5 separate regions of the Homo sapiens genome follow, and regions 1, 2, 3 and 4 are each linked to region 5. Evidence: fine-mapped expression QTL. A gene starts in region 5. Each other region holds a variant in brackets. All regions are shown on one strand. Distances are between the middles of the regions.

Region 1 (5,111 bases), 67 kb after region 5:
TTGGATCTGGTGGCTTGAATAACACTGTAAGAATAAGTTTGATATAACTCAAATGTTCTATGATCACTCTCCCACCATGCTGCTTCTTACCCAATAAGCCTCCTTTTTCCTCCTCTCTCTGACCAGCACCCATATAAATGCAGGCAGATACTTCTAACTATTAGTATGCAGCAGAAGTGATGTTGCATGACTGCCTAGCCAGGTCATAAAAGGTGACGCAGCTTCTGCCTGGCTTTGTCTTTCTATTCAGACTGTCCCTTTGGAGCACTGGTCATTATGTAATCAGCCTGGCTATCTTGAAACCACCATGCTAGACAGGCCATATAGAGGTAGAGAAATGCCTGCAGAACCCCATATCTGGTCTCCAGCTGTATGAATCTTCTCAACCCACTTCAACATGTGAGTGAGGAAGCTTTTGAGATGACTTCAGCCGCAATCACCACCCCATTATAACAACAGACTCCTGTGCTAGTCAGCTCAGCTTCCATAACAAAATATTATAGACTGGGTGGCTTAAATAATATATTTATTTTCACAGAGTTCTGGAGGCTGAAAGTCTAACATCAGGGCTCCACCGTGATTGGGCTCTGCGGAGGGCTGTCTTCCTGTCTTGCAGACAGCTGTCTTCTCTCTGTGTCCTCACACGACAGAGGGAGAGAGCTAGCCCTGGTGTCTCTTCTTATAGTCAGTACTAATCCCATTGGACCAGAGTCTCACCCTTATAACTTCAACTAACCCTAATTACCTCCAAGAGGCCCCATCTCCAAATACCTTACATTTGGGGGTTAGAGTTTCAATTATGAATTTGGGGGTGAGGGATGGACACAAACATTCAGTCCATAAACAGAAACTCCCATCTGGAATACCTACCTGAGTCCAGTCCACACCAGAACCATGAGAGATAATAATGATAAAGGATCATTGTGGTTTTATGCACTAAATTGAGGATGCTTTGATATACAGTAGAAAACCAGAACTCTTGCCAGGCATGGCAGCTCACACCTGTAATCCTAGCACTTTGGGAGGCCAAAAGGAGAGTACTGCCTGAGTCCAGGAGCTCAAGACCAGCCTGGCCAACATGGTGAAACCCCATCTCTACAAAAATACAAAAATTAGCAAGGTGAGGTGGCGCACGCTTGTAATCCCCGCGACTTGGGAGGCTGAGGTGGCAGGATTACTTCAACCCAGAAGGCAGAGGTTGCAGTGAGTCAAGATCATACCACTGCACTCCACTGTCTCAAAAAAGAAAAAAGAAAAAGAAAAAGTAAAACCAGAACTGCTGTTCATCTTTCAGACTTCTGCCAGCTATTTCTGCAGAGAAGAACTTTCTGCCCTTCCCCACTTCTTTCACCCAGGTACAAGGTAACTATACATCCTTTGTGTTCCCCCAAACATTTTATTTTGCTTTAACATGGAGTTTTCACAAATGAGAACAATTGTCTCTATTTCCTACAAGAATTGCTGGAGGCAGACAATATAGAAGTCATAAAAAATGTTGAAAAGATAAATAAGCGTTTAAAACCTACACATATCATGTCTGAAGAATAGACTTGTGGGTCTATTGCATCAGACGTGGAAGGGGCAATAGGGGCAATATTTTATACCTAAAGAAAATCAACATCAGTTTTACCCTTCACCTTCAGCCAGCCCATTAAGTGTGTATGAGAGAGAGAGAGAGAGAGTGCACGTGTGTGTGTACAGGGTTGCCCCACCTAAGAGAGAGAGAGAGAGAGAGAGAGAAAAAGAGAAAGAGAGTGTGTTTACAGTGTTGCCCTACCTGAGAGAGAGAGAGAGAGAGAGAAAGTGTGTGTGTGTGTGTGTGTGTGTGTGTGTGTGTACAGGGTTACAACTAAACTGACCCACAAGTCTCTGAATTTTAGTGAGGCACAGACCTAAAGGAGAGCATCATCAGAGTAGTGTGCTTGCTTTTCATATTATATAATGATTTAATGGAACCACAGATGGTGATTAACACTGCAAACATTAAACAGAAGAAAGATTCCAAATGTATTAACTTAATCAAAGCATATTTATTGAATATCTGCTATGTGTCTGGAACTATCCTATTTGTTTTAGGAGAAATGAGAGATGTATAAATAAGGAAGTCTTCAAGGAAGTAATTTTCTAGTTAGTGAGATAAGACAAACACAAAAGAAACTTAATAGAGGAGATAAATGGCTTATTTGAGCATATTAAGATATAATACAACCCAGCAGGAAATAATACATGTAAATAGTTTCCAAGGCTATGTTCAGAAATATTTTCTCAATGTAGTTACCAGGGGTGGGGGAAGGCAGGGGTGGGCAATGGGGAGATGTAAGTTAGAGGATACAGAGTAGCAGATATTAGGGTAAACAAGTCTAGCAATCTAATGCAGATGAGGTTTAGAGTTAATATATTGGCTCACGCCTGTAACCCCAGCACTTTGAGAGGCCAAGGCAGGCAGATCACCTGAGGTCAGGAGTTTACTACCAGCCTAGCCAACATGGTGAAACCCCATCTTTACTCAAAACACAAAAATTAGCTAGGCATAGTGGTGCACGCCTGTGCTGCAGGCTGAGGCAGGAGAATCGCTTGAACCCGGGAGGCAGAGGTTGCAGTGAACTGACATTGGGCCACTACATTCCAGCCTGGGTGACAGAGTGAGACTCCATCTCAAATAATAATAATAATAATAGTAATAATAATATA[C/T]TGTATTCAGAAATTGTGCTAAATGAGTAGATGTTAGCTGCACTTGCCACACACACTGAAAAAAGGGTAACTATGTGAGATGATGGATATGTTAATTTGCTTCACTCTAGTAACCATTTCACTGTCTCTATGTATCCCATATCATGTTACATACCTTAAATATAGACAATAAAATTTATTAAAATATTTTTTTCAAACTTGGGCATTTAAGACTTGGTAATATGAGTGATACCAAGCTGAAACACAAAAGAGATTGTTATATTTACAAATTTTTAAAATATCACAATTACAAAAACAAAGATATTCCAAAATAAGAACTCTCTTGAATTTTCTAATTAAGAGAAACAGCAGTGTTCTCCTATGGGCTCTAACAACGCATCTGCATACTGATTTTCCTTTCTCAGCTTTTATATTTAAAGGACATGTATCGGCTTCTCCTTGGTGTTCTTAAGTCCCCAACACTTTCAAAAGTTGTATGTGATCTATGGGGAAATATGATTGATACCAAATTGTATTCAGGCCATCAAGTAAAATCTCAACATTTCTTACTGTTCCTTCTGAAAGTCACAATTCCTATTCCAAACAGTTATTTCTTATTCTTTTTTAGGCTTTGAGGCCCAACTTAATAACTTTGCTCAATAAAAATTGTGCTGTTTTTAGTTTTCCATAAAAAGTTAATATAAAAGTAGAAGCATAAAAAAATACACCAGAAGCATAATGGAGTATAGAAATGTGTAAAATGAATTACTTTTCTTTATCCTGTTCTTTTTATTCTTTATATTAGTGGATGGCTCCTTCCCTTACCCAGCTGTGAATAAGATCAACTTAAGTTGCTTTCAATTTAGTGGGGATACAAACAAGCAAGTAGGAAATTGTGATACACTGTTATAATCAGGGAAGGGCAAGAAGCCTGTGGAAAAATCAGACTGAGAAAATTGAAAAAAAAAAAAAAACAGGAAACATCAGAAAAAATAGTTGTTAATGAAACCAAATCAGAGGGAATTCTAAGCAGAATTAACATAGTATGAAAAGACTTAGAGAGGAGTGAGATTCACTGGAGGAGCAAAAACAAGTTTCATATGGCTGTAGTTTCCAGCACAAGTTAGGGACTGGCAAGAATGAAGCTGAGATGAACAGTGGGGTGAACAAGGAAGGATTCTGTAAATCAGGCTAAGAATCACTGAACTTGTTGAGGATGAGGTGTAAACATTGGGGGTTTTAGGAAGGAGGATGACACAACCAGATAATATTTAAAAGATCATTCTGGCTATTGTGTAACACATTTACTGAAGGATGTTATAACAAGTTCCATAAAATATATTAGTGATCAGAACAAAGGCAGTAGAAGTTCACAGTGAAAGTGGACAGTAATCAAGAAACATTGAGGGAGTTGAATTGACAGGACTTGTTGATCGATTTGTAGGATATAAGAGGATTTTTATTTAGATAGATTAGATATTTAGATAGATTAGATAGTTGGGTAACATGACATAGGCAACACAGAAGTAGACATGGTTTTGGCTGGGTGAAGTGATGTGTTCAGCCTTAGAAGTACTGCTAGGTGCATATAGAATGTAGAAGTATAACTCAAGAGAGAAAGAGACAACTGGATAAAGACATAACTGAAGCCATGGACATGAATGAAATCATGCAGGGGAAGAATATAGCATAAAAAAATAAATAAATAAATAATAAAACAGTCTAAACAAAGTCCCAAGGAGCGTTAACTTTAAAGATGGGGCTGGAAGAAGCAGCATTTCCAAAGGACTTAGAAAGAATGCCAGGAAGAGGAAGAGGAGAACAGTCACAAAAGGTAAGAGAAGAGTGTGCTTTAGGGAGAAGCATTGGTGATGAGCAGCCCCCATCCTTGTGAGAGACTGTGGAGGGAAGCAATTGCAGTAGAGTCATGGTCAAGGAAACCAGATTGCTAAAGAGTGAGTGAAGTGTTAAGTATTTAAAACATATATGAAACTCTTTCAAGAAGTATGGCCACAAAAGGGAAGTCATCAACTAATTTTCATCATATATGTAAATTAAAACACTAAAAGAAGGTATCCAGGATATTGTGACATGGAGAAAGTCTCCTAACTGTTCCTCTTTAAGGGCAACCTAAGTGAGCACACTTTATCTTATCTGCAAGCAGACTATCTTGATGAGCGTTAGAAAGCCTAAAAACCCAACTTAGCACAACCATACAAGAGTATGCTCCCACACTGTGTCCGTCTCACCCTTACCCAAGTGAAGCTGCAGTTTCTAATACCTTTGTTTTTCCTCTCCACTCATAATCAACGTAAAATTGGATCCTCCATTGTGACTGAGGTGAGGTAGTATGTAAACAGAGATCATTCAACCTAGGGGTTGGTAAGAGTCCCTCCTTTTCTTTCTTGTGGCACCAGATAGGAGGAATTTGGACTTGAACT
Region 2 (5,111 bases), 33 kb after region 5:
ACACACTTGCCAGAGAAAGAACCTACAATGCATAATCAAAGATGAGACTTACCATTTAAAACTCATTCAATGACGGCTCGTATTAGTGATATTCATGTGAGAAGTACATGGAGGAGTTAACTATTTCTTCATATATCCAATGTTTGCCATGGATCATAGCTGTAGCAAAAAGTAAATTCAATAAATGACTTTTTTATACACTTTCAAAGCATTTGAAGTTCTGTTTAGTGAGAGAACTTTAGTAAATATTTTTAGAAGTAGTAATCAGCCATTAGGACAAATGAGAAAAAAAATCACTACAAATAAATGTGGACATGGCAGGAGATCCAAATGAACTTCACTGGAAGAAAAGTGCCACTCTACTGGTGGGGTAGGGCATTTCAAAAAACAAACACAATGTTAGCCTTAACATTTCATGTTTAAGTTTCTTTTATTTTGTACCATTAAATATGTATAGTATGTAGATTTGTTGTTGACAATAGCAGCCGCCAGCCATATGTAACTGTTAAGGACTCAAAATCTGGCTAGTATGATTTGAAATGTGCTGTAAATATAAAATGCACAGTAGATTTTGAGACTTTAAGAATTTAAAATATTTTATAATGGTTACATGTTAAAATATTTTGGATATTAATAAGTTAAATATAGTTTTGTTTTGTTTGAGACAAAGTTTTCCACTTGTCGCCCAGGCTGGAGTGCAATGGCATGATCTTGGCTCACTGCAGTATCCGCCTCCTGGGTGCAAGCAATTATCCTGCCTCAGGATAGCTGGGATTACGAGCGCCTATCTCAGGATAGCTGAGGCAGGCCTATCCTGCCTCAGGATAGCTGCCTCCCAAGTAGCTGGGATTACAAGCGCCTACCACCACACCCAGCTAATTTTGTGTATTTTTAGTAGAGATGGGGTTTCACCATGTAGGCCAGGCTGGTCTCAAACCCCTGACCTCAGGTGATCCACCCGCCTTGGCCTTCCAAAGTGCTGGGCTTGCAGGCATGAGCCAGCATGCCTGGCCGGTTATTTCTTTTTACCTTTTAAAAATGTGGCTGCTAGATAAATTACTTAGGCAGTTTGCATTACATTTCTATGGACTACACTGGAGGAGAGATTTCTAGGTTTTTTTCTAGAACACACATTACATCTAATCATTTGCCACTCGATTTTTAAACAGATGCAGCCTCATTTCCACCTTTTGTTGAGAAAAGCCAGGTATTGCAGTTCTTTTCTTCTGATATTTGCAGGTAAGACAGATACTGAAGTATAAGTATGTCTGAGTCAGACCCCAGGTGACAAAATGCAGACCAAGAAACTTAAACACAGCATAGGAAATTCATCATGTTTATTAACTAACTCTTTGCAAAATGTTCTTCTGCATCTTCCAATTTTTAATAGTACAAATTTTTTTTTTTTTTGCCATTTCTATCTAAGCAAGAACCATTTTGCCTTTTAAAAACTAAACTAGTAGTCTATTAACGATCAAGTCCAGAAGGGCGTGCCCAATCTTTCTAAAGACATACAGAGAAGATGATGCAAATGTAACAGAACTGTGTTAATGTGCTCTGCTCAGATTTGTGGGGCCCAGTAGATAACACACAAGCACTGGAGCCTTTACCACTACCCTTGAGCCCAAGCTCTGTCCCTAAAGACTGTATGCTTGTGGGTAGGCATTTAACATCTCTGAATTTTTTTCTTATCTGTACAATTTAAGACAGCAGTATTTCTTCATATACGTGTATCTGGGGATAAGAAAAATATGTGTATTGAACCCTATGATAGACACTTGGTAAACGATGGAAATGTACCAGGTATATATCCAGCATGTATATGCATACACTCCAGTGAGTGGTCTTTCTTTCCAGGATTAATTAAGCCGTGAAAGAAACTATTTCATTTAAACTGATCACAAATAAAGTATTTGAAGGAAGTCCTATAAATATTTACTCTATTGGATAAATTGCCTGTGAGAAGTAACTTGAGTATAAATAAACATGGTACTTCACAAACAAGAATAGTTCATGCTTGGCTATTGAGTTTTAGTATGTGTTAAAATTTCCCAATCACTTTTTTTCTAAGAATGAAACAAGAATTTAAAAGAGTATATGATGTTTCTAAGTTAAAACAAGAATAAGAAAAAATGAATCTCCAGAATGTAAGTTCAGGTTCCTGGAATGCAGCTCTTTTTTCTCTGTATTTAGGTCAATCTATGCTGTATTTGAATCCGACGTTAATCTGAAAGGAATCCCTGTGTATAGATTTGTTCTTCCATCCAAGGCCTTTGCCTCTCCAGTTGAAAACCCAGACAACTATTGTTTCTGCACAGAAAAAATTATCTCAAAAAATTGTACATCATA[T/G]GGTGTGCTAGACATCAGCAAATGCAAAGAAGGTGAGTAAATAACCTCAGTAGCACAGTCCATACCATAATTTGTGATATTCTTTAAGATGAGAACTTTACCATAATCCTTTAGCAACCAAAATTTAAAATATATCATAATTTGTGATATTCTTTAAAATGAGAACTTTACCATAATCCTTTAGCAACCAAAATTTAAAATTAAAGTAAGAAAGTAATTAGGGCAGAAGAAAGAATGGTGGCAGAAAATTTTAGTGCTGATTTTGTATTTTGGGAAGATCCCACTTGTGTTTCAGTATTACAAAATTTAGTTAAAACCACACCAGTATTTCCTTGTGGCTGCTTTTAGATTTAGGGTGAAATGAAAATAATTCCGAGAACACATTAAACATCCTGTTATTCATCTGTCCTAACTTTTTTCACTAGAAAATGGTACAGGTAAATGTATTTTCAGTATGTATCTAAAGCTAGAGTTAAACATAAAATTTGGAGACTAGCTTATCCTGTACATATTTATCATACTAACGTGGGTGTGGAAGAAGAAAGAAAAAACTAGTGTTAAATAAATTCTTAGTCCATAGACATATTACTGCCTGAAAGCTTTACATATTGAAAATTAATACTGAAGGAGTTTATAGTAGAAATCAACTGACATAATTCTTCCCCACCCATGTTAAAAACCATGTATTTTTTAATGCAAGAAGCTTTAGTTTTGTGGAAATATTTTTTGAGTTATATGTGAAATGAAGGAAGTTATTAATTCCAATTGACTCTTAAAACTTGTCTTCAGGGAGACCTGTGTACATTTCACTTCCTCATTTTCTGTATGCAAGTCCTGATGTTTCAGAACCTATTGATGGATTAAACCCAAATGAAGAAGAACATAGGACATACTTGGATATTGAACCTGTAAGAAAACACCTTATTGATCTGATTTGGTTGATATTTTTAAAAATACAATTGAAATAAAAATAATCTTGTCGATGATTATTTATTCAATAAATAATCATATTTATTGAATCACATTCTTGAAAGTTACTGAAACTTAGGTCGATTTCTTCCTATGGTTTATGAAGTGATTCTAATTGGCTTAAAATAATTTTATATAAATATTTATGTTTAGATGAGGAGTTATTGTATATTATGCAAAAGTCAAAGAGTATATGTGAGTTTGACTATACTTATTGTCAAAATCTATAAAATTGTTGTAGCGCAACAGTTTTAATCATCTTTATTTTTGTATTTTCCTTTTCAAAAAGTAAATGAAATTCTAGGATTTTAGTAGTTATGTTTTAGTTTAAACAATGACACATGGATTCTAACTGAATATATATTTGACCAGGAATTATCTGAGATCTTATATTTTGTTGCTGATTTTTGATTTTTTAAAAACCATTTCAAGTAACTCACAAATCTAACTAACTAAAACCTTGACATTCGATTGGGCAAATAAATTGTGTGTATCTATATGGATGCATGTGTATATAACTATAACTATATATGCAGTTTTAAAAGTTTCAATTAGTCCTGTTTAACCTTAAGTTACTACCTTCTCTTCTGCTGTAAGAAAAATAAGTTTTGAATAGTATAAAATAATGTTTTTAAAAGTTGGTAATTATTTAGTTGTTCTCTTTTTAGATAACTGGATTCACTTTACAATTTGCAAAACGGCTGCAGGTCAACCTATTGGTCAAGCCATCAGAAAAAATTCAGTGAGTCTCTTGAAAATGGTTATTTTGATATGATCTGTAGTATCGTAGTATCTTCTTGTAAGAACATGAGTAAATCTATGTAAGTAAGTGGAAATAACATCTGATATCAACTTATCTTTAGCTTAATGTCACCAATCATTATTAAATGCTTATGACTAATTTCACAGATTTTGGAATGGTTTTATGGTTTTATTTGAGCATTTGATAGCATCTCTTATTTTGTTAGCTGCCCAAATATTTCTATGACAATAATTAATTTTTGGAATTCATATTTCAGTTCCCCGAGAATTTATTGAAAGGAAAAATCCACACTTGTGAAAAAAAATCAATGTGATTAGAAGACATATAAGAGCAAAGGAAGTCAAAAACAACTATATTAAAATTTAAATGAGTCATTACAGGAACAAAATCAAATTAGCAACAGCAACTAATTTATGAACATTTATTTTAAAGTTTGTTATATATAAATATTAGTTTATATGTTCATAATTATTTTCAACGTATATTACAGAGTATTAAAGAATCTGAAGAGGAACTATATTGTGCCTATTCTTTGGCTTAATGAGGTTTGTATTTGCAGCTGTTAGTCATTAAAAACAACCTTCTTTGTATATAAACAAGCTCTTGATGTTTCAAAAGAATGTATAGTATTTAAAGCTATATGTATTTCCATTACCCATATGGATGAGTATACATTTATTTAACCTATTTGAGATGATCCAATTGAACAAAAACATTTCCTATCATTTAAGATTTTCTTCAAAAATGCATCTATTAAACACATTTTCTTGTTGTAACATTTGTCTTCTATTGCCTGACAAGGTATTTTTACTATAAATCCATGCATTGATAGCTATAAAAATAGGAAAAACATTGAATAAGTCTTTGGAGCAAATGAAACTGTTGACCCTTTGATAGTTCTGAAGAGCAAATGAATCCTAGTACATTGAAGAGTACCGTACTCTATCTGGCACTTAATTGCCTTTCTTGACTTGCAAAAGGAATTCCATTAACTTGCCTTATAGATACTGATGACTAACACCAATAGAGG
Region 3 (5,111 bases), 25 kb after region 5:
TCTCAATCTGGCTGTGGCAGTGAGTAGACAAACAACAAAGTTATCTATTTTAAAATACTCTAGAACTCATGTAATTAATCCTATCATTAGAATTATTAGGTTTTACTTGTTTTTCCATTTTTATCAAAACGTATTCCTATATCATTATTTTGAATGGAGGCATGGTCATTTGGAAAGTGACAAAATCATAAGAATCGACTGCATTAGAAGACCACTTTATTTTTTTCATTATTTTTTGTCGAAACATTCTCTATATTTAATTTCAATTTTATAACAGATTACAGGAAGATGCTTAAGAAACAAGTACAACATTTGTTTCAGTATGTCTTTAAATGAAAGACTTTTAAGTATGTAAGCAACTATATAATAAAAGGTTTCCAAACGCAGCCTGTAAGAAATCAGGCAAATTTTACTATAAGCAATAAACCATTCCGAGCTTTCCAGACAGTGTACCAGTAGCTGTACCAGTGGGCAATAACCTTTAACCAAACAAAAACAAACAAACAAACAAACAAAAGCACTTTGCAATTTGTTGCTGCAAAATGGGGAGAAAAAAAGAGTATATAAACTTGATGGAATCACAACTGTCAATATAATTTAAGGGAAAATAAAGTCGATAAGGTTGATGGTGTCTATTGTTTGGAAAGTCGAATTCGGCTATTTGCTTGGGGCTCTAGAGACCACACCACTGAATAAACAAAACTCTGCAGAGTCTAGCTATCCGCCAACAGGGGGTGCCGTCCAAATTCATGGCAAATAAAGGGCATTTGGTGCTCACCATTCACAACAGGCGGGCATTTATGTGGATGAAGTACAATTTCTTCAGCAAGCTCAGCAAAAACTCTTAAGGGGCAAATATGAACTCTGCATTTTAAGAAAAATAGAAAACGGAAACACAAAATCCTAAAAAGTATATGAAGGCTCTGCATTAGCACACTGGCATCAAACCACACATCCACAGCACATCCTAATTCTATGGGAAACAATCCTTGCTTATCGGAGGTGCATATCTAAATTCAATAGCTTACCAATATATTCTTGGGAGTAGGCCAAAAGGAAACAGAAAACCCACATTAAAAAAAGAAGTTTCTTTTCCTAAACATTTTCCTGAAGCTGAAATTGAAGTGGAGAGGAAGTCAGTTGTCCTCGTCGAAATCGTAGTCCTCCTCATCCTCCCCAACCTGGGACACCGGGGTCTTCACCCTGGAGATGCTGTACTGAGACCTGTTGGAGCTTGTGGCCAGCATTTCATCCGCACCATTGGTCAGGTCACTGGCAGAGAGCCTCGTGCCGTTAGACGTGGAACCTGCCGTTGTGATGAACACGCCTGCAACAATTGTCTGCGCCATTTCTGTCACGTGTGGCTCCAGCGCCTTTGGGACCAGACTTATGGCTTTTTTTTTTTTTAAGTTCTGGGATACATGTGCTGAATGTGCAGGATTGTTACATAGGTATACATGTGCCATGGTGCTTTGCTGCACCTATCAAACCATCATCTAGGTTTTAAGCCCCGTATGCCTTAATGCATTAGATATTTGAGAAGACCACTTTAAGTGTATCGTTAAATAAATAGAGCTTAACTTGGAATGTCGTCTTCTTGTGGCTGGCACTGAGGCAAAGAAATGTAATCATCTAGGAATTAGACGAATTGCATTTTGAGTTTTGGCAGGATCTGGCAGTAATTTTAAAGATAAGCTTTAAAAAGTTTTGTATTAAGCTCAATATTAGCATTTAATCCATTTATTTGTTAAAATCTAATATTGTATTCTTGTCTTAAACAGTGACTTTGTTTTTGTAGGCTGCATCCCATATCTATCAAAATCAATTTGTTCAAATGATCCTCAATTCACTTATTAACAAGTCAAAATCTTCTATGTTCCAAGTCAGAACTTTGAGAGAACTGTTATGGGGCTATAGGGATCCATTTTTGAGTTTGGTTCCGTACCCTGTTACTACCACAGTTGGTCTGTTTTATCCTGTAAGTACCAAATATGAATGGCAATATTATTACATTTTAATTTAATTAATTCAATGGCATTGGCAAGGCATAATTTTATAATTTAGCTCATTAGTCTTATTGCTGATCTGGAGACATATATCCTAACTTTTTAAAAAGTCCACTTCTCATTATAGCTTCAGCTTTCCTAGTTGGGAAATTCATCTGAATTTAACAATTAAATTTAAACCTGAAGAATAGATTTAATAAGGTTTCTACTCATTTATAAATACACAATTTTTTTTAAATTAGCCGGTAAGCTAGTCTGTAAATCTTTGAGCACTGTTTTTGGCTTTTATTTCCCTATTCACATAATCAAGTTTAATACCATATTTTTATTTGTTTTAAATATACTCCTCATTCCTCCTTTTCTAGACCTCTTACAATTTTAATTTATATTTAAAAGTTAGCCTAATGTTCACATCTCAATACTGATAAGGTAATAGACTTCATTTTAATGGGATTTGTAAATAAGAATTTTTAGTAGTCCATAATGTCATGAAATGGCAGCTTGAAGATTAAGGAAAATGTGAACTTGATGGTGTACTTGATTACCGCTTAATGTTTTGAATTACAAATAGGATAAGCTAACTACTGAATTGGAAGTTGGACTATGACTTCATTTGGCACTATATGTGAATATTATGTTCTCTAGTTCATTGTTTTACTTTTAGATACTGTTAGGATTACAAGGTTATATATCAATTATAAATGAATGTAGAAAGCCATAATGAATCAAATTCATTCTGATTTTAACTCAATACTCATAGCTCTTTCTTTGGCTAATGCTTTAACTTTTGGATGTCTAATTTTTATCATTTTAGTAACCACTTATTATCATTTTAGTAACCACTTATTAATGACTGTAACATTTAGAATACCCCTAGAAATCATTGTTCTTATAGGTTTGTTCAATGTCCCTCACCTCAACATAGTAAGAATAGTGATCAAAATGCCCTCATTGGCTTAATTATGACAGAGTGCTAGAGTTCACATCATGTCAGCTTCTGATATGTATCTTCTTTGTCACAGCATCTAGCACTTATTTCTAGGCACCTTTCACAATTTTTAAGGCCAATAATTTAAAAAAATGTATTGCAGATGTATTTCAAGTCATTTGAGTAACCAGTGATTGAGAAATGTGAAAGTGAGTTATGTATTGTACAACTTTGAAAAAATGACTTGTAGAAGTAACATTTTCCCATACATATAT[T/C]TCAGTACAACAATACTGCAGATGGAGTTTATAAAGTTTTCAATGGAAAAGATAACATAAGTAAAGTTGCCATAATCGACACATATAAAGGTAAAAGGTAAGTATTCTGGTAAAATGTGCATGTATGTTACTAGGGTACTCTTAAGCAGGAATAGTATTCATTTAACATCTCATAAGACATAGGCATCAACCTATAGAACAGACCTGGTTATAATTCAGCTCTGGAAACTCCTGTTCTGCTAGGTATTAACTCTTTAGTTGTGGTAACTGGTGAGTTCACACCAGTGCATAGCTGCTGACTATCAGCTCCACTTTAAGGTTTGGTTCACCTTTCTGCACAGGTTATGGTTGTGTTACATAAATCCCCAAAGGGACTATTTTTTCATCTCTGCTACTTATCCAGCATTACAGTATAATTATTCTTACAATTAGATAACCATAAATGAAAAGGTAAAAAAAAAAAAAACAACACATCAACTGATTGTGTAGTAGATGGAAACTTTTTTTTTACTTTTTAAATCGAGCATATCGAATTCCATATTCCAGTGGCATGACCTAAATGTGTCTATAAAGATGGAAGCTTAATGAATCCAGGCAACTGCTTTCATGACCTTCCCCCTGCAAATAGTCTTTAATAATTTTCCATATTGATAACTCAGCTTTTTTAACTTTATCAATGCAAAAATAGAATGAATATTTCAAGTGCAGTTCTACAATGTAAATACAAAATGTGAAAATGAAGACTTTGCCAACTTTAAAGTGGTAAAATAACAAATCAGCTTCCTAAGCCATTATTTCCTTTTTTTTTTTCTAGCTCCAGCCTATTCACCTAAAGAATTTATAATTTATCATATATGTAAACTAGGAAGAACCCTAATAAATATCAGAGGAACAAGCTTTCTTCTCCATAAAATTAACAATTGTGTGTTTGACTAGTTTTTTTCTGAAAAAGAATAAAGTGATCAAAACCAAAAGAGATGAAATGTTTTTATTAATATAAAGTAACCCCTACCTCAAACTGAGTCTATCTAATGATTGCTTTTAACAGCTAAATATTACTAGTGGAGTACTTTTTCTTCTAAAGAGTCCACAGTTACATATTTTTATAGAAAAAGTCAGTAGAGGGAAAAAAACACTTCTAAGTATTCACTTAAAAGGAAATCACAGCAATTTTTTATATTGAGAAATAACGAGCATTTCACTCTAATATTACAGAGAGATGTGGAGGGGAGTTGCAAAGCACTCCTAGTTAGAGTAAGAATTTCACATCATTTTAAGATTGTAAGGTTGATTTAACTCATGGCAAGACTGAACATGATTAACCACTTATTTTGTTTAAGCAATGGCTTGTCTTGACATGTCACTGTCAGGAGTGGAAAAAAAGTTTTTCCATCACCAAAAAGTGAGGATGCAGGGAAACTATTACTATTGTTTTTATCACTTCCAGATATATATAGCTTATTTAGACAGCAAAGTATAAGTTAGTAAACTCTTTCCTACTTTAACGCCAGTCCATGGGAGAATTAAAGGGAGGAAGGGGCAAGAATATAAATTAATCATCTACATGTTTTGAATGTTTGCTGATCCAAACATCTGCTTCTTTCCTCTTCCCTGCTTCTCTCTTCTGCCTGCCTTGTACTTAGCTTATATCAGTTACCCACTTAACACTTTCCTTCTATTCATTCTGAACACTTATACTACTGAGTAATTCATGTATCCCATTGGAAAAAAAAAAATTTCCCCTAAGTAGAGATCTAAGTTTCTGATAAATGTTTTTAATTTTTTTCTTATTCCAAGATGTTTCTAATTAACACCTGGCAGTTTTTATTTTATGATCTGGCTACCTAATGGCATCAGGTACATTGCAATAAGATAAAAGGTTCAAACAAAACATAAACAGAA
Region 4 (5,111 bases), 150 kb before region 5:
TACGGAGTTTGGCTTTTTTGTCAACAAATGGCCATATCAAGTCTCAACCTGATTTTCCTGCATCAACACAGGATAGATTTTTAAAACCCCATTTCTCTGTTAAATGGATATGAAAGAGAACTGCAAGTTCAGTGAAATATGCTCTGGTCACTTTCACTAGCATCATGCTATTGGCTCCTTCCACTATTAAAGTGCTGTTTAGGAGGAATGATGCCATAAAACAACCACTACACAGTTTTATCCCTAAGGAGAAAAAATTATATATCTTGTCAGCATAGCTTTACAAACCAAACAAATATACTGTTTCATTTCTTTCTGTTTTTCTTTCTTATTTTCTTTTTCTTTTTTCTTTCTTTTTCTTTTTTGTTTTTTTGTTTGTTTGTTTGTTTGTTTTTTGAGACGGAGTCTTGCTCTGTCATGCAGGCTGGAGTGCAGTGGCACAACCTAGGCTCACTTCAACCTCCACCTCCCACTTTCAAGCGATTCTCCTGCCTCAGCCTCCCAAGTAGCTGAGACTACAGGTGCACACCACCACACCCAGCTAATTTTTGTAATTTTTTTTTTTTTTTTTTTTTTTAGTAGGGTCGAGGTTTCACCATGTTGGCCAGGATGGTCTCGATCTCTTGACCTCATGATCTGCCCACCTCGGGCTCCCAAAGTGCTAGGATTACAGGCGTGAACCACCATACCTGTCCTTCCTTTTTAAAAAAATATTCTATTTTTAATTTCAATATACTTTATTTGTAGAGGTATCATGAATATAGTTCTAGTTTAAACACTTCAATGTTACAAAGTCTCCCTTGACCACTTCAATCCTACTACCTCCTACAAAGGCAAGTTATCCTATCAGGTTGGTTTTTGTGTCTCCAGACCTTTTACTTTTTAAATTTGTGCGTGCATAGTTGGAGCCTACGGTAATGATTTTCAATCCAGGCTGCACATTACAAGCATATGGTGTACCCTTAAAAGTACTGATAGCAGAACTGCAACCCAAACAAAATGAATCAGCATCCTTGCATGTCAGGCCCTGCAAAGGTAGTTTTTAAAAGCTTCAAGGTGACGCAACTGTTCTGACTGCATTAAGAATTTCTGGCAATATACAGTTGTTATTTTTTTAACCATAAATAACACTTTATTGAACATAGTGTATTTCCATTCTTGATGTTCTTCTGTGCTTATTGAAAAGCTGGTATAATTTAAAGAATTACAATTCTTTAAATTTAAAATTCCTTAAAGCTTTTAAAGGATTGAGCCTACCCATCAAATGTGAATTTTTAAAATATATAACACCAAAATGTATAGGTATTATGAAAACTTAGCTTCCTCATAACGGCCAAACTGATCGAACACTTAACTCCTATTTTATTGTTATATTTTAAAAACTCTAGTAATTTCTCACCAAACTCAAAACTCAACATAAAACCCAAATCCCTTATCCCTTACTGTGACTCACAAGGTTCTACATGTTTTGATCCCCTCTTTCCCTCCTTTCTCCCTTTCTCTCCCTGCCACCAAGACTCAAGATGCACTGAACAATTTGTTGCTCCTTGAACTCACCAAGCCCTCATTTCAGCGCATTTCAGTGGTTGTTGCCTCCATGTCCTTCGGTGGTTCACTTCCTTTTTCACTCAAGTCTCTTCCCAATACCACCTCCTCAATGAAGCCTTCTCTAATCATCCTTTCTGCCACATTTTTCAAATAACACCCTGTGGATTTGAGTGGCATCCCAAAGAAGTTTTATTTCCCTATGAGGTATTTGGAAAAGCTTGGGAATTACAGTGGGCCTGGAATGGCTCATTCTCTCTCTCTCTCTCTTTAAAGAATATTTATTTTATTTACTCATCATTTTTATTTTACTTTAAGTTCTGGGATACATGTGCAGAACATGAAGGTTTGTTACATAGGTATACATGTGCTATGGTGGTTTCCTGCACCTATCAACTCATCTTCATTCTCTTAAGATTGTGTAACTTTGGGACTACATTGTATAGAAAATAAAATATGTGTTTTCCCTACAGATTACTCAGAACTTCATCGTTAATATTAGGGATCCCAGGTGGTCTTAGAACTTTGTGGAACTTATTCTGAACCCTAGAGTCATATTTCCAAATATCATGAAAAAAATATCAAAAGAAAGGAAGACTATATAGTTTACCTAGTAATTGTGAGAAATGCTGAGTTAAAAATACCATGTTTTGTGGCTACTCGGTTTTCAGAATCTTTGAGTAGTAATATTGGTTGAAAATTTCCAAGTTATTGGACGCATATATACCAAACAAATCTAATCACAGAACTTCAATTGTAGAACATCTTGAGGAATCAGTGCTTTTTGGTTCATATTGTAGAGTTTACTTTGTAGGGTTCTATGTCCAAGATGATTACAACAGTGCTCAAATTATGTAGTAAAAGTGTTACAATTTTCAGCATTCTTTTATGTCAGTTGAGTGGATTCTATATGCTCCAAAATAGGATATAATAATATTCAAAAGGATAAGTAGATATTTACTAAATATCTTCATTATTTCTCCTTTCCTATTTCTTCAGGATATGAAGGTTTGTTACATAGGTAACAAAAAAAGAGGGTTTGTTAACCCTCTTTTCAAGTTCTATGCTTAGGAAATTCTAAGCCTATCAAATACTAAACCACAACCAATAAGAACAATCCCGATTTAGCTGCTTCCCCTCTAACTACATATCCCATCTCTCTCCTACTCCTTGGCTATAGGTCCTGAAATATTGTCCTTAACTGTTCCAATAGCCTATTCTCATTTCTCCACATATTCCACAGGAGTAGGAGTCCACCATTCTTCTGGAACCTCTCTCACTATATTCCCAATGGCTCCATATTTCTAAATCCAATAGATTCTATTTAATAGTTTCCTTTCTTGACCTCTCAAGACCTTTCAATGTGGATAATTCCCTTTGGAACACTTCTCTTGAATTCTGTGATTTCGCATACTTCTGATTTCCTTTTACTCTTCTGTCCTCTCCCTTGAAGGTTCTTTTCCTAACAAATGAGCAGAAAATATTGTGTGTTTTTTTTTTTTAACACTCTTCCCTAGACTCTGTTATCCCTAATACCCTTCCCTTCTTAATCTAAGTGCTTCCTTCACCTATTCCATCCTACTTTCTTAGTATGAATTATATGCCAT[A/T]GTATAATGGCATGCCAATAACACCTAGATTTAGATCTCTAGACAAAGTGTCCATTTTGGGCTTCAAATGCACATTTGTAATTGCTTACATATGTAGATATCAAATAGAACTTACAAACTCATTCCAAAACCAAACTAATTAGTTCTTTTCCATCCTCATTTAATGTTAGTGTTCCCCTTCTTAGTAATTCCTTCTTTAAGCAAGGATTGAGCTCCACATATAGCTGCACAGCCTTTTTGAAATAGCATATTTGTAGTTACTTGTTAAACATCAAGCTCTCCTCTCCTGATGACAAATATTATTTCCATCTCAGTTACTGCTGAGCCCTCACTACATCCCCGGTGTCCAACTAAATGTCTACCACATAAATAATAGTTTAATAAAAAATAATTTTTTCAAATGATGTTGGATGTATAGATTTCACTACCTAAATTTTAATGATCCTATATTCAAAATAAATATTGAAAAATAATACCTAATATTTACTGAAAATGTACATTCTATAATACTCTGTATATAGTGGATTTCTTATGTTTTTGCTTCCTTCTTTAATAGTCATTGTAACTCAAGGAGGAAAGCCATAACATTCTGTGGAAGCAGACACTGAAATTTAGAGAGGTTAACTTGTCCAAACTTATAGACCCAGTGACTAATAAAGCTCACATAAATTTTCTATCAGAACTTCTCTCTTTGGCAATCTGTGTGATGATGTGCAAATGGCTATATAAAAGTATATGCACTTGTATAAATAAATAATTGAGAGCTAACCAGAACTCTGAAAGTCACATGTAGGTAGTGTTTAGCAATCAATCTGTTAAATAAACAATTTTAAACAGGTCAAGAGTATATTAATCTCAAAACCAAGTACTAGAATGCAGCTGAAACTGATAGAGTTCACATAAGTGGAAATCAAAATATGAACTATGTCGTGCCTGACAACTGTGATGTTCTGATAGTTGAGAATATAGGTACTCTTGAGAAGTTATGACAATGGCTAAGTGCTGCTTAAGTTGATCTGTTTATGCCATTCAATGTACAGTTTGAATGAACTGTACTTTTATTTTTTAATTAGCATGATGGCAGCAATGTGTAGAGTTTATTATTTTCACTTCCCCTATATGTCAACTCATTAAGACTTTTACTAATAAATCTCTCATCTCACTTTTTTTTTTTTCAAGACAGGGTCTTGCTCTGTTGCCCAGGCTGGAGTGCAGTGGCGCCATCACAGCTGCTGCAACCTCAACCTCCCAAGCTCAAGTGAATCTCCCACCTCAGCCTCCCAAGTAGCTGGGACTACAGGTACACACCACCATGCCTAGCTATTTTTTTTTCTTTTTCTTTTCCTTTTTTTTTTTTTTTTTTTTTTTATAGATACAGTGTCTGGTTATATTGTTCAGACTGGTCTGGAACTCCCGGGCTCAAGCGATCCTCTTGCCTCAGCCTCCCAAGATGTTGAGATTATAGGCATGAGACACCATATCTGGTCAAATATCAAGTATTTAGTGATCAGAGCGTCACTGTTTCACAAACTCTGGGTTCTATGAAAGACACAGTCTATTTAAATAAGTAGCAATAGGCAAGATTGTGATTTCCAACTTCTCTGACACAAATGCATGGAATACCGTATTGCATCTACAAATTTAAACATCATTAAATCATTCTCAAAGGAATTCAGAGGGTACGTCTATTTTTGTAACTATTATTGCCTAAGAGGAAAAAATAAATATTTCTAATCATTAAATCCTTGAATAGCAAAAAGCACTATAATGGAATCCAGGAGAAGTGGATTTTTCCATAAACTTGAGCTACTTAATGTAAACCAACTAATCTTTGAGCCTTGTTTTTTTTAAATTAAGGTGGGTATACTATGTTGTTTCTTAAGAGCCAATTTAAAATCCTACGTTCTTAGGAAAAGCCAAGGTCAGATCCATAACTGAACTACACTTAAATAAGAACAT
Region 5 (5,111 bases):
AGCTCTTATTATTACTCTTTTATTTAGTTTTCTCTATTCTTTGATTATGAAAATGAGAGCAATGAATGTTAATTAACTTGATTATGGCAATCATTTTACAGTGTATACACATGTCAAAATGATTCATACCTTGATAAATCTGGAAAAAGAAGAACAAGCAGTTAACTTCCAATTACAAGTCAATATAACTAGGGCCCGGTAGCCTGAGGATTTAAACTTACATCCTTCCAATTTCTAACCCTATGTGATCTCTTGCAAAAAAAAAAAAAAAAGAATTTCCAAAGAATTGTCTAAACTGACTGAAGTAGATTGAAAATTATATCCTGTCATTCTAATAAATTAATCCAGTGTTATAGTGGATTTACATAAAGCAAGGTATATGCTCACATAAAACACATCCCTTCAAAATATGGTGGGTGCATAGTCTTTAAAAAAATGAAAACCCCAACACTCTTTACTTTAAAATGGGTACAGCATTTTGCTATGTTATTGTTTAAGGTCTATATTTTTCTAAAAATCCACAGTTGCAGATTTGACTCAGCTGTGTGCTTTCAGATCTTGTATGCTAAGCTACTCAGGAACTGTTGTCTATGGGATTGAACACTTAACAGCTGTCTCTGGGAATGTAAATTTGATTCTTTGGACTGCTCATGGGACTCTGTGACATTTTCCTCTCCAGTGACAGCAGATTTGAATGGCATTAGGCTACTGATTAAATAATACCCAAGTAAGTTTAATGTCAACTTAGGCATCTATTTTGCATGTATTTTTTCTGAAATAATCTTTCTCTAATTGCGATCATATTTTCATTATACTTTAGTCTTTTAATATCTTTAAAATATGCTCTTTTAAACAGGTCTTATCTGAACCCTTTCGTTGGTAATCTTTTTCTGAATTGTCATATTAGAGTGTGAGTGTGTGAGAATTAAGGTTGAGAAATAAATTAGCTTAAATACAAAACAGCTATCTACAAAATAGATATTCTTAACCAAAATAATATGTCTTTATACTACCATTTTATATCGTGCCACCAAGATAAAAGGTCGCAGTTATTTAAGGGAATTACCTTCTTAAGTTTCATGAAATCACTGTGAGTTATTCTTTTCTAACTGAAAGCATAAATTATAAAGAGATTGCACATGGTCATTTCTACTTTATCCTAATTAAGTGGTCTGAGATTTGAAAAAAAAGTAATAGACTTACAATATTTTTATGACTTATTTTTTAAATAAATATGTCAGTAAAAACTTCCCTGGGGAAAAAAAATTCTTGAGGAGAAAAGAGTGTTTGGGGTTTTTTTTTTCAGTTGTATGGCACTGCTTGCAAATGAAAGGATTCGTTGTGTGCCTCACATGCCCAAAAAGGACAGCACGAGCATTCTAACTTAAGGACTGGTTTAAATATGACCTAATGAACTAAATATATTTCTGTCTGGTATTCTTAGGTTACTTTACTTCTAAGGTTGTTTGAATGCATTTATCCAGCTCTCCTATCAAATACATGCCAGGTTAACCCTGTGAAGGTTTTCCTGTATGATTCTGAGAATTTCTTTATAAGAACAGGGTCTTGATAGTGAAGGTTCTTTCCCCAAAGTGCAAGGCCTTCTATTTTGATTCAATATCAACATAATGCTTTTTTTTTTTTTGAAAGTGACTTAAGTACTAAAGATTATCCTCAATAGTAATTCTACTTAGACATATTTTGGTTGAAGAAATTTAAAGAGTTTATTTTTTGTAGGAGCACTGTGCTGTGATCATGAAATTTTTGCAAAACTAACAGAAAATGATAAACAGTTAAGAACTTCCAGCTAGAACAATAGGCTGTTTCCTTTTTTTAAGTCAGTTTGTCATCCTTGCTGATTGACAGTCTCCAATTGTTTTCAGAATTATTAGTCTCACAGTATTTCAGAATTACGCTGTATAAAAAAGTACATTAAATTTAAACTTAATAAAATAAGTTTCGCAAGCTCAGTCAAGACAGGGAAGTGAGAATATGATTATTCTTCCAAATTTACTATTTCCACCAGCGGTCTCAGTTCAGCATCTGAGAATATGTTAGGGGAAACTCAGCAAGTCAGTTCCTTTTGTTTTTCTGGCCTCTGACTTACTTGGATGGGAAATAGCCAAAAAAAAAAAAAATGCTGAATATCTCAGATATAGGTAATGGGTCTTCACCAGAACATAAAAATAGACCCTTATTAGCCATATCAGTAATGTGCTGTGTGGGGGATTTTTTTTTTCTTTCAATTCCTCTGGCAACAAACCACACACTGGGATCTGACACTGTAGAGTGCTTTCTCTTCTCTTTTTTTGGGGGGGGGAGGGGGTGTGGTTGCATATTTAAACTCTCACGCATTTATGTACTGAGGACTGCAGTGTAGGACTTTCCTGCAGAATACCATTTGATCCTATTAAGAATTGTCCAAATGTTGGAGCATTTGATTGAAAAATCCTTCTTAGCCATTTTAAAGGTAAGTTGTATGATTTTTCTTTAAATAAAAAAGATTAAGGGATTTTTCCCATCACCCAGATGACGGGAGGTGACACTACTGTATAAATACTCCTAAGAAGTTATATAGGAGGACAGGAAAAAAGGTAGTAACTGTTTTCTTAGTCACTAGGCTTTATCTAAAAATCAGGTTTGCATTATTTTCAAGTTATCAACCTTCCTATATTTTATGCTTAAACCATACCCAATGGCATTTCATGTCGTATGTATAAGTTAATATTTAAAGTGATTTATAATCCAATTTGGATTATTATAAAACTTTCATTTTATACTTAGGCTATTTATACATGATGTTTAAATGATGAAGATCATTATACTGCAGACCAATATAATGAGGTTAGATGTTATAAATGACTTACAGCTCTTATGTCAACATGTTGTCTAATATGCAATTATTAACTATTACTTTACAGAGTCATTAGCTTGTTTAATTTTCAATCTGAATTGCACAACTTTTGGTATACCTGACTTGCTCTACATGATCAAATGCAATGTGTATTTTGGATATGTGCTTTTTAAGTTCTTTTCTGTAATGAACAAAGATATTGTCATTGTTACTGGGAATAGCAAAGTATATTACTTTTAAATAATCTGAAATTTAATTAGTGTAAATTAGTAGAATAAAAATAAAGTTAATTTTTTTTCGATTCAGGAAGCTTATTACAAATAGTACTGAATTATTAGATGATGATGCCAAGTTGAAGTAAAGGAGAAATCAATTTGGAGGAATTAAGTAAAAGCCTCAAATTAATTATACATTAACTAAAATTATAAATAACTGTAAATGGCATAAATTCTCTAGAGTACATCCCAGTTTCTGAAATCATCAAGTAGCATATTGAAACCTGTTTTGTAAAGATTTGCATGTACTTTTTAGTCTTTTTCTGTGTGGTTTGAAGTCAGTAATGTGTGTTGAAGCTAAAAAATATTGCTTTAAATATTGGTTCACAAGGAAGCCAAAATGAAATATTTAAAAATGTTTGTTATATAGAAAGTCCAGTGGTCCTTTGGAATTTACAAGAAAATAAGAACTAAAGTAGAAATCATTTAATTTCCCAGACTCATTAGTGAACCAGAACAATAAACCAAACAGAGAACCATCAGATAATGGGTTAGCCTGGGAAGAATATTAATTACAACTGGAGGTACTTGCACAGAGTGTACTGAATTTGGAATTTACCTTGGAAGTTATAGTTGCCACCCTATTTTTTTAAGGAATTTTTTTAACCTTGTTTACTTTAACACATTTGAACCCTGCATGTGTGTGTATTTCCTGTGTGTTTCCTGAAAAGGAAAGTTTAAGATAATTCTGTAACTATCAGATACTTAATTCTGTAAGTATCCTTGCATCTAATCAGAAGATGTTTTTGTTCACTGGCCCAAGATGTGTCTGAAACTTGCAAGTAGCATTGTTCTAAACTAGTAGCTGTCTTTCCATTTGCATATTTTAATTCCATACATATATGATCACATTTCATTATAATCTAACTATTTTGCAAATACTCATTTCTACTTTTGTAAAATATACACATTTATTAGATTTTTAAAACACTTGGCCAATATGAAATAACACTTTACTGTTATGGTTTGAAATGATACTTCATAGTAATATTTCAAAATAACAATAACATTTTCTACAATATAAATATATATTATTTTACTTCATTTAATACTTGCAACCTTATTTGATGTAAGTAAACTCATTTTAGAGAAAACTGTATCACAGACAAACTTCAATACTAACACCCAGAACTGAATCTACATTTCTTGGCTTCAAGGTCCAGCATTTTTGGCATTACAAACTTTATAGTGTCTGTTTATAGTAGAATTTGGGGTGTGGAAAAAAGACATTAGCATTCTTGTCTAAGGTTCAAAAATTAAGAATGGGTCTAGATAATACTCTTTAAGTCAGTATGAACTTAAGGGAATAATTTCAAACCTACAGTAATCCCTGGTTCATAAGTCTTTAAAAGACGGGACTTGTTTCTAGAAGGATCCCAAGTATAATATATAAAGTCCAATGTATTTATTGCATTAGTTTTTAAAGACTACCATCAAAACAAGTTACAAATTGCAATATTTGAGAAGTATGTAATTATTTTATATTACAGATGTCTATCAAGTTTTTTCCTATTTTACATTTTTACCATCATATATTCTGATAGGATAGAAATGGACATGAGATAATTTCAGTAAGATAAGATTCTGGAGATCTCATAGTCCAGTTATTTGAAAATTACTTGTGGAGCCCATGGGTTCTTTGGAGATGACTCAGAGCCCAAGTGAAGCGTGACTGGGAAAGGGAAGAGGCACAGTTTCTGCTCCTTTCTTTTACCAAATAACTCTTCTTTGAACTATCTTTTATATTGGTATTGTGCATAAAATTTACCTTGAAAGGAGAATTCTATCTCTAAACATGATTTTATAAAGAATGACCTAATGACCTTATGTTGATGAAACATAATCATAGTTAAATGATTGTTTTACACCCATTTCTACTACCTTGAATTTGAATCTACATTTTTACTCATGTATAGGGAACTGTGTCTTTATAAACATACATAGTTATGATAATGTGAAAAAAGTAATTTTAAAAACTAACT

Alleles and levels. Alleles are on the strand shown, and positions count from the first base shown. SD is a standard deviation of normalised expression in the study named. Not every link is listed here.
As copies of T replace G in region 2, the expression in whole blood of the gene that starts at base 2,366 in region 5 goes up (large effect, 0.83 SD a copy in GTEx).

Evidence for each region.
Region 1: its variant is fine-mapped to the expression of CD36 in whole blood (TOPMed, PIP above 0.99).
Region 2: its variant is fine-mapped to the expression of CD36 in whole blood (TOPMed, PIP above 0.99). The same link has a PIP of 0.9 or more in blood mononuclear cells, macrophages, stomach, sun-exposed skin and tibial artery.
Region 3: its variant is fine-mapped to the expression of CD36 in whole blood (TOPMed, PIP above 0.99).
Region 4: its variant is fine-mapped to the expression of CD36 in whole blood (TOPMed, PIP above 0.99).

The regions. Positions count from the first base shown.
Region 1 is chr7:80,703,603-80,708,713 of GRCh38, forward strand. No RefSeq gene overlaps it. Among named protein-coding and RNA genes, the nearest start is that of CD36, 68 kb to the left of the region's middle. The variant C/T (reference allele first, on the strand shown) is at 2,692.
Region 2 is chr7:80,668,784-80,673,894 of GRCh38, forward strand. It overlaps CD36 (CD36 molecule (CD36 blood group)), which reads left to right. Exons shown (of 15, transcript NM_001001548.3): 9 at 1,170-1,239; 10 at 2,194-2,381; 11 at 3,139-3,257; 12 at 3,987-4,060; 13 at 4,572-4,626. Among named protein-coding and RNA genes, the nearest start is that of CD36, 33 kb to the left of the region's middle. The variant T/G (reference allele first, on the strand shown) is at 2,350.
Region 3 is chr7:80,661,192-80,666,302 of GRCh38, forward strand. It overlaps CD36 (CD36 molecule (CD36 blood group)), which reads left to right. Exons shown (of 15, transcript NM_001001548.3): 5 at 1-19; 6 at 1,799-1,978; 7 at 3,215-3,306. Among named protein-coding and RNA genes, the nearest start is that of CD36, 25 kb to the left of the region's middle. The variant T/C (reference allele first, on the strand shown) is at 3,210.
Region 4 is chr7:80,482,136-80,487,246 of GRCh38, forward strand. All of the region lies in intron 3 of GNAT3 (G protein subunit alpha transducin 3), which reads right to left. LOC107986812 (a long non-coding RNA gene) reads left to right here and starts at 4,332. Exons shown (of 3, transcript XR_001745252.2): 1 at 4,332-4,452. The variant A/T (reference allele first, on the strand shown) is at 3,153.
Region 5 is chr7:80,636,277-80,641,387 of GRCh38, forward strand. It overlaps CD36 (CD36 molecule (CD36 blood group)), which reads left to right and starts at 2,366. Exons shown (of 15, transcript NM_001001548.3): 1 at 2,366-2,470.